Linked DNA regions of Homo sapiens. The protein of the gene in region 3 interacts with the protein of the main gene of each other region in a biochemical or structural test. Each region holds a gene or a part of one and is shown on either strand. Other genes may lie near its edges. The genes, in order: KANSL1, H4C7 and KAT8.

Region 1 (3,657 bases), on a different chromosome or scaffold from region 3:
CTTCTGCCCTCAGTACAGCCTCTCTCTCATACTTAATTGCCCAAATATCTCTCTTTCCCTTTACCCCAAAACTTCTCTAAGAATAGTATAAATAACTGTCTCTGCACTCTTCACTCTTCCATAATCTGGATTTCACCCCCTACTGCTCTGGCAAAGGTGACCAGTAATCTTATTATCAAATCCAATGGTCAAACCTCAGTCCCCATTCTATCTGACTTCTCTGAAGCACTGGACAATACCGACCTTCTTCTAATTCTTTCCTGATGTCCTTGTACTATCATCCTCTTCTCTTCCTCCTGGACCCTTAAATGCTGGTGCTGCACAAGGTCCCTTCTGCCCTCTTCTCTCTCAACAACCACTAGTATGGTGAGGTTTCTTAACCATAAGAAAAACTTCTGAGCTGCACTAATCAAGATTCCTATAACCTCTATGTTCCTCAAGCCCCCTGAAGCTCAGAATTCACTTTCTCCTTCCAGCACACTATTCCGCATCCTGTTTCATTACCTTAAGTAATGACACTGCTTTTATTTAGTAACCAAGCTAAAAATCTCAGTCATTTGCCTCTGTTTGATCCCCCTTGATCTATGTGGTCTGGGAGCCAAAGGAAACATACGTAAAGAACTAAGCCAGTTGTTCTTTAAAGTGTGGTCTCTGGACTTCTGGGGATCTCACAGGCTATTTTGGAGGTTCGTGAAATCAAAGGTATTTTCATAGCAATACTAGAATATTATCTGCCTTTTACACTGTGTTGACATTTGCAATCAGAGTACAAAAACAAAGGTGAACAAAACTGCTGGTACATTATTAGCACAAATCAAGGAAGAGGCACCAAACTATACTAATAGTCATTATACTCTCCACTCAGTTTTTCTTTTTTTAAGGGAGTTCCACTTAAGATGTCCTTGATGAACAGCAAAAATTATGAATTATCTTGAGCCTTTAGTGCATTTTTTAAAAATATTCTTTGTGATGAAAGGGAAAGTATGCATAAAGCACTCTGCTGCTTTATGAATTCTCAGGAAAAAGCACAGTACAACTGAGTTGCAAAATGAACTAGAGCTTTGTTCATGGAACACGATTTTTACTTGGCAGAACTACTGACAAACATTATTTGAAACCTGCTTCACTAGCAGACATTTCCTTGCAAATGAACAAAGTGAACCTGTCACTTCAAGGAAGACCACTGACGATATTTGCTGCCAATAATAAAATCTGAATTTTTTAGGCAAAGATTAGTGTTTTTGAAAACTTGTATCAACAATCATGAACTTAAACATTTTCCCAATATTTTATTTGGTGGGTGTGGATGTGTGTGTGTGTGTTTAACAGAGTCTTGCTCTGTCGCCACGCTGGAGTGCAGTGGTATGATCTCAGCTCACTGTAACCTCTGCCTCCTGGGTTCAAGTGATTCTCCTGCCTCAGCCTCCCGTGTAGCTGGGACTACAGGCACGTGCCACCACGCCTGGCTAATTTTTGTATTTTTAGTAGAGACAGGGTTTCACCATGTTGGCCAGGATGGTCACAATCTCCTGACCTCATGATCCGCCCACCTCGGCCTTCCAAAGTGCTGGGATTACAGGCCTAAGCTGCCACATTCGGACTTTCTGAATATTTTAAAAGCCATTTCTGATTTAACAGACTTGTGACGATATTAATGAACGTGAATTTTTGATTGCATATAATGTAATGTGTAACATTTGGAAGATCTGCATAACCCAGTGAACGATAAAATGTCCAGTGAATGTCAGGAAATCATGCATGGGTAAAAAGTTTAAGTGCAAGACAAATCATTTATTTGTTGCTGTTATTTTGAAACAGGGTCTAGCTCTGTCACCCAAGCTAGAGTGCAGCGGCACAATCATGGCTCACTGAAGCCTCAACCTCCTGGGCTCAAGTGATCCTCCTGCATCAGCCTCCTAGTAGCTGGGACTATAGGTGTGTGCCACCATGCCCGGCTAATTTTTTGAATTTTTGTAGAGATGGAATTTCATTTTGTTGCCCAGGCTGCTATCAAACTCCCAGCTTCAGCCTTCCAAACTCCTGGGATTATAGGCATAAGCCGCCATGCCCAGCCTGAATTACTTATTAAATATTTTTTAAATTTCTCAAAGTTTATAAGAAAAACAATTTATTTGCTGTTCTCAACAAATTTTAAGAGTTAAAAAAGGGTCCTGAGACCAAAATGCTTGTGAAATCACTGGACTAAGCACCCCCCTCCCTGCCCCAAATGAGGGCAATCTCCAATTTAATCAAAAATGCTTATCTTTGGAGCAATACCAACACAGGATGGTAGGCCCTACAGGACCACAGTAAGCTTCTTTATAGTATGACAATTTGAATCATTAACATAAAAATACTCAAATAAATGACTGAGAAAACATTATTCATAAAAGCACCAATATACATATGGGTCGAATCTGTCTTATTGCTGTGTGTGTGTGTGTGTGTGTGTGTGTGTGTGTGTGTGTGTGTGTGTGTGTGTTTCTGAGATGTAGTCTCGCTCTGTCGCCCAGGCTGGAGTGCAGTGGCGTGATCTCGGCTCACTGCAACCTCCGCCTCCTGTGTTGGAGTGATTCTCCTGCTTCAGCCTCCCGAGTAGCTGGGACTTCAGGCATGTGTCACCATGCCCAGATAATTTTTGTATTTTTAATGGAGATGGAGTTTCACCACGTTGGCCAAGCTGGTCTCAAACTCCTGACCTCAGGTGATCCGCTTGCCTCAGCATCCCAAAGTGCTAGGATTACAGGTGTGATCCACTGTGCCTGGCCTCATATAATTATTAACACCAAAAGTTTCTTGTTCCAGGGTTGTATTTTAACCAACACTCTTTATGAACTAGATTTTCAGGGCTTATGTAGTTTTCTCCTGTGGGCTTTCTGGCATATGGCATTCTGTGTGGCACAAATTATTCTATGTTGTCTTTTCCCATTTCTAACTTTAAATATAATACTAATTACTAATATATTATTAAACATTGTGTTACAGACCAGTTGACAGTACTAATTCCTGTTATTAAACATTGTGTTATAGACCAGTTGACAGCTGGACCAATATAGTTGTTAAAAATATTTTGAGTCACTTTTATAATATGCAAAGGGTTTTTCCCATGGACAAACGAAAATCACTACCAGATAATTCCCATCAATTCAATCTCCTCCCCTTTTGAATGTCAATATGTAGTTGATATGAGCAATGCAAGGAGGCATATTATCAGTGCCAGATGATTAATACAACATGTGAAGAGTAATTGTACCCTACTGCCTGACAGCACTACAGTAAGACTTAGCAAGGGCAGGAAACAGCTTCCCTCTGAGGACCCAAGCAAGGGCACAAATATGCTTTATGACTTACATAAAACTTAGGAAAACCCAGGCTCACTCCAGCACAAATGAAAAAGAGGGTCATAATTAACATCACATCACAGAAGGTGCTTAAGTAGTAAACTTCTCAAAGTTATTCTGAGATTATTCAATTCTTTAAAGCTTACAACTTTAAGAAAAAATGCCGGCTTAAATCCCATCTACTCCAGCTGGGCACAGTGGCTCACGCCTGTAATCCCAGCATTTTGGGAGGCCGAGGCAGGCGTATCACCTGAGGTCAGGAGTTCAAGACCAGCCTGGTCAACATGGTGAAACCCTGTCTCTACTAAAAATACAA
Region 2 (2,303 bases), on a different chromosome or scaffold from region 3:
CAAGGTGTTTCTATATTTACGATGGATCACAAGCAAAGGCACGAAACAGGTAAACTTCTTTTAGTGCTGCTAAATTAGATCATTGAACTAGCAAGGGGGCCAGTCCCTCCACTGCAGACACATTTGTCAGAACGGCACCTGGCAAGTTTGTGCTAATTATTGTGTATTCTCTGGTTATTGAAATTGCTTATTAAGCAGAATATAAAAGTCGGGTTATCTTGGCACTAAAACTACAATTTTAATTACGGAGGGTAATCCTAACAGTAAGGAGAAAAACACACTACCATAACCACATTTTGAGAGCTTTTAAGTGACAATGTAGCCGTTGATGTCCTCAGCCAGCCCACCAGATTTCTAATCTCTGAACACACGATTAACTTACCACCTGTATTCCATGTTGTATGTCAGCCTTGGCGTAAATTTATACTTTACAGCATTATACACCTAACAGCTTTTGGGCACCTACAGCAATAAAACACACAATATTGCTGAGTGCGTTAGTTAAGTTTCCACAATGTCAAACGTGAGCCCTTCGGAAGAAAACGTACGCGGCCCTGAAAAGGGCCATTAACGATATTGCAAGGAAAGGCCTGGCCTCACTTAACCGCCAAAGCCTTACAGGGTTCTTCCCTGGCGTTTGAGCACGTAGACCACGGCCATGGCGGTGACCGTCTTGCGCTTGGCGTGCTCCGTGTTGGTCACGGCGTACCAGATCACATTTTCCAGGAACACCTTGAACACCCGGCGGGTCTCCTCATAAATGAGGCCCAAGATGCGCTTGACACCGCCATGCCGGGCCAAGCGCCGGATAGTGCACTTGGTAATGCCCTGAATATTATCGCTCAGTACCTTGCGATGGCACTTGGCACCGCCTTTCCCAAGGCCTTTTCCGGCCTTGCCCCGAACAGACATGATAAACAAGTCAGAACTATCTCTAAACAAAACGATTACTCGCTTTCCGCAGCCTTTTATATAACGGTAGAGTAGACCTTTTTGAAAACTGAAAGACCAGGAAAGGCGGGAAAACGTATTCAGTCCCCGCTCATCTACTTCTAGTAATAACAAGACATAAGAAATTCTCTTGTAGTAGGGAGATTTGCTGGCATTTAGAGAATAAGGATCTCTAAACGAAAGTGTCAAACATGTACCTAGAGGAAAGTATCTCGATTTTTGATGTCTGTATGTGTTTAAAGATTTACTCCTGGCCGGGCGCGGTGGCTCACGCCTGTAATCCCAGCACTTTTGGAGGCCGAGGCGGGCGGATCACGAGCTCAGGAGATCGAGACCATCCTGGCTAACACGGTGAAACCCTGTCTCTAATAAAAATACAAAAAATTAGCAGGGCGAGGTGGCGGGCGCCTGTAGTCCCAGCTATGCAGGAGGCTGAGGCAGAAGAATGGCATGAACCCCGTGGGGTGGAGCCTGCAGTGAGCCGAGATCACGTCACTGCACTCTAGCCTGGGCAAGGGCGAAGCCCGTCTCAAAAAAGAAAAAAAAAAGATTTACTCCTTCCCTGTATATTAGAGCATTTACCATGCTGAAGTTGAAACAAGCCCAAATTCCAAGACATAAAAGAATTCCTAATCATATTGCCAAGCCGCCCAGCTAAAGAGAAGTAGCCTGGTTTTTGGTTTCGAATCTGTGAGTGACTGCTCTCTCACCGATATTAGACATGTTAATCTGAGTTTCAATGGCCCTATCTGTAAAAAGGGTAAATACTTGTTAATAATTGAGTTACTTTAAGCAAAACACTGGCATATAGTTAGTAAATGATTTTTTTTTAAAATACGGAGTTTCGCTCTTGTTGCCCAGGCTGGAGTGCAATGGCGCAATCTCTGCCCACTGCAACCTCCACCTTCTGGGTTCAAGCTATTCTCCTACCTCGGCCTCCCAAGTAGCTGGAATTACAGGTATGTGCCACCACTCCCGGCTCATTTTTGTATTTTAGTAGAGACCAGATTTCACGTTGGCCAGGCTGGTCTCCAACTCCTGCCCTCAGGTGATCCGCCCGCCTTGGCCTCCCAAAGTGCTGGGATTACAGGCGTGAGCCACCTCACCGGCCAGTTGGTAAACGAATTCTTATTGCCACAGCCTTTTTTTACAGACAAAATAATAATGCAGAGGTAAAGCACACCGAAGGATTTTAAAACATTGCCTTTGCAACACCAATACATTCAGTGTGCTTTCACTTATATTAAGCACTATACAATTAAGCAATGAAGAATTGCCCAGAAAAAAGATAATGTAAATTGCCAGAGGCTCCATGCCCTGTTCTCATGTGGAGGACAGAAGGTACAGGGGGT
Region 3 (3,657 bases):
CCACACTTAAGGTCCCACTGCCAGGGGCTATGTGTGCTTCCTGGGATGGAGCTGGCCTTGGCAAAAGACCTGAAGGGGGTGAGTTACTGTCCCCATTCCAGAGAAGAGGAGCTGAGGTCTGAAGTTGGCAAGGTCACCCTGCCAGCAACAGCAAAGCCAGGCCTGGAATCCAGGCCTCCTGACCCCCAGCAGCTCTTCCCTGTACTCGCTCCTTTGGGCCTGTCTCCTCCCTGGAGCTGCCGGCGCAGCCGCCCTCAGTCTCCATGCCTGCCTCTGCCTCTCACCGGGCCCCTGCCCAGCTCGGCCCGGCCGGCCCAGCCTCACCAAGTGGAAGCGGTAGCTCTTCTCATATTTCATGTACTTGAGGCAGTACTCGCAGAGCCAGAGCTTGGGCTGTTTCCCATAGTCTTCGGGGAATGGTGAGAAATACCAGGCATCAATTTCGTAGTTCCCGATGTGGATCTTGTCCACATACTTCACCTTGGTGATCTGCAGGCAGGGTGGGAGTGAGGCACAGTGCACGGCTCAGCAGGGGCTCCTCGGCAAGGGGAGACGGGGGACCTGCAGGCAGCTTCCCAGCCCCACTTACCGCCTCATGCTCCTTCTCCAAGGCTGCTGTGGTGGGGTCCATCTCTGCATAAGTCTGGGCCAGGAAAGAAAAGTGGGCAGAGGTGAACAGAAGTGGTGACCAGGCTGTCCCTCCCGTCAGGACCCACAAGGCTTCCCTGCCGTCTACCAGACCTCATTCCTGGATGGCAATAATAACCACACCAATAGCTAACCTATCTGACTTGGTTCTGAAGCTGGCTGGTCCAGACTCCTCTCACACCCACCCGCCCCACCCCCGATATCCCAGACATCCCTGATGTCCAAGTTTGGACCTTTTGCCAGATGAACAGGGTTAGGATCAGGATGGGGCTTCAGCTGCACGATGGGGGGCAATCCAGCTCTGCCAAAGTTGTGAGACTCAAATGAAATAACAGATTTGCCTTCCAGGCCCAGCGTAAGAACTGTTACTACCTCCCCGATGTTCCTGGACCCCTTTCCTGAGGACCAGACCCTGCCTGCCCATGCGACTGCCCCAGAGGTCCCTCCCACAGGGACAGCGGACTCAAGATGTGCAGAAAGGACCTCATCACTCCTCCCTGCAAACCTGCGCCTCCTCCTGGGTTGCTCATTTTACTGGGAACATCACCCTTGGTCCCAGTGTCCAAGACCCATAACTAGGCTTGCCTCAGACTACTCTCTCTCCCTCGGCCTGGCCAAGTCCTAATACAGTGGATGTCGAGTCTACTTCTGACATCTCTGGAATTGGGCCCTCTCTGGAATTCTCCTCTCTGTCCTGCTCCAGGTAGTCATGGCCCCATCTCAGGTCTGGACAATTTACTAGGCCGCCTCAGACTCCCTGCCTCCAGCCCCAGCCTCCTCATTGCTATCAGCAGCCCCCTTTTAGCGGCCTTCATGCTTCTGCACAAACAGCTCCTTCTACCTGGAGAATGCCCTTCCTTCTCTCACTGCCAGCAGAAAACACTTCCTCAGCCTGGCACGGAGCATGAGTCAGGTGAGTCCATGATGCTTTGTGATCTATCCTTTGTCACTGTTGTTATTGTGCTCTTTCCCATCCTTCAAGGCTTGAGATTCTTACCACCCCCTCCAGGAGGCCTGACTGGATTCTTCCCATCCAGAAAACATTCCCTCCTTCCCAAGTTCAGCGAGAAGTGGTCAACAGGGCAACACTGTCCAAGTATGCCCACCTGGGTTCCTCTATTTTTCAAGTCCTTAGAAAGCAGAGACTAAGAGTCACACCACACTCACAACACATCCTGCTCCTAGGCCAGACCCTGTGGGAGGAACCCAGTACAGCCTGACAATGGAAGGGGGACCCAAGACGGTCCATGACCTACACCAGGGCAGACAAGGCCCTGCCCTGTAGCTGAGAAGGGAGGAAGGAGCCAGTGCTTTACCCAGAACCCCCTCCACAAAGCACTGTGCCTATATGTTTATATGGCCTCATTTAATCCTTTCAGTAACCCTTACATAGAGTGTTATTTCTTTTTTTTTTTTTTTTTTTTTTGAGACGGAGTCTCACTCTGTTGCTCAGGCTGGAGTACAGTGGCACCATCTCGGCTCACTGCAACCTCCGCCTCCCAGGTTCAAGCAATTCTCCTGCCTCAGCCTCCCAAGTAGCTGGGACTACAGGCACATGCCGCCACATCCAGGTAATTTTTGTATGTTTAGTAGCAATGGAGTTTCGCCATGTTGGCCAGGCTGTTCTCAAACTCCTGACCTCAGGTGATCAACCAGCCTCGCACTCCCAAAGTGCTGAGATTACAGGCGTGAGCCACTGCACCCAGCTGCGTTATTTCAATTTTACAGAGTAGTAAACAGGCAGGGCAAGGTGAGGTCCCTTACCCTCGGGGACTAGTGAGCTGCCATTTATTCCAAGTGGCAAGCACGGCACAGACATGTTTTTTTTTTTTTCTTCTGAGATAGACTCTCACTCTGTCGCCCAGGCTGGAGTGCAGTGGGGAGATCTCAGCTCACCACAACCTCTGCCTTCTGGGCTTAAGTGATTCTCCTACGTCAGCCTCCCAAGTGGCTGAGACTACATGTGCCTGCTACCATTCCCAGCTAATTTATTTTGTTTTTTGAGATGAAATTTTGCTCTTGTTGCCCAGGCTGGAGCAATGGTGCAATCTTGGCTCACTACAACCTCCACCTCCTGAGTTCAAGCGATCTTCCCACCTCAGTGTCCCAAGCAGCTGGGATTACAGGCGCCCACCAGCAAGCCCGGCTAATTTTTTGTATTTTTGGTAGAGATGGGGTTTCACCATGTTGGCCAGGCTGGTCTTGAACTTCTGACCTTCAGATGATCCACCCACCTTGGCCTCTCAAAGTGCTGGGATTACAGGCATGAGCCATAGCCTTTTTTTTTTTTTTTTTTTTGAAATGGAGCCTCGCCCTGTCGCCCAGGCTGGAGTGCAATGGCAAAATCTCACGTCACTGCAACCTCGCCTCCTGGGTTCAAGCGATTCTCCTGCCCCAGCCTCCCAAGTAGCTGGGATTACAGGTGTGCACCATCACACCCAGCTAATTTTTTGTATCTTTAGTAAAGACAGGGTTTCACCATGTTGGCCATGCTGGCCTCCAACTCCTGACCTCGTGGTCTGCCTGCGCCTGGCCTCTTTTTGTATTTTTAGTAGAGACGGGCTTTCACCATATTGGCCAGGCTGATCTCGAACTCCTGACCTCAAATGATCCAATCATCTCAGCTTCCCAGAGTGCTGGGATTACAGGCATGAGCCACTGCACCCAGCCGACATTATTTCATTTTGTTCCTCACAATGAGCCTTTGAAATAAGAGTGCTCATTGTCCCTGTTGTATGAGAGAAAACTGAGGCACAAAGAGGTGAGGTCACTTGCCCAAGGTCACAGAACTGGTACTCAGCAGAGTTGGGCATGGGCCCCTGGTCTGTCCAATTCTGAACCTAACCACTGTAAAGATGAGGAAGAAAGATTTTCCTCCTCACACATCTCTTTAAAACACATTTCCCAATTCTCACAAAATACAGTACTCTTCTGCAAATGCAATAAAGAACTACAAAAACACTACTTTTCTTAATTGTTGCAATTTATTTAGAATTAAACATTAATTAG

Evidence for each region.
Region 1: the proteins of KAT8 (region 3) and KANSL1 form a complex in vitro, tested with the Homo sapiens proteins (one study listed by BioGRID).
Region 2: of the proteins of KAT8 (region 3) and H4C7, one has a biochemical effect on the other in vitro, tested with the Homo sapiens proteins (one study listed by BioGRID).

What each region holds. Positions count from the first base shown.
Region 1 is NC_000017.11:46,172,882-46,176,538, forward strand, and holds part of KANSL1 (KAT8 regulatory NSL complex subunit 1), read right to left. Parts: intron 1-3,657. UniProt on the Homo sapiens protein: Non-catalytic component of the NSL histone acetyltransferase complex, a multiprotein complex that mediates histone H4 acetylation at 'Lys-5'- and 'Lys-8' (H4K5ac and H4K8ac) at transcription start sites and promotes transcription initiation.
Region 2 is NC_000006.12:26,246,066-26,248,368, forward strand, and holds H4C7 (histone H4-like protein type G), read right to left. Parts: upstream 932-2,303; 5' UTR 913-931; coding exon 616-912; 3' UTR 546-615; downstream 1-545. UniProt on the Homo sapiens protein: Core component of nucleosome. Nucleosomes wrap and compact DNA into chromatin, limiting DNA accessibility to the cellular machineries which require DNA as a template.
Region 3 is NC_000016.10:31,124,021-31,127,677, reverse strand, and holds part of KAT8 (histone acetyltransferase KAT8), read right to left. Parts: intron 644-3,657; coding exon 590-643; intron 490-589; coding exon 325-489; intron 1-324.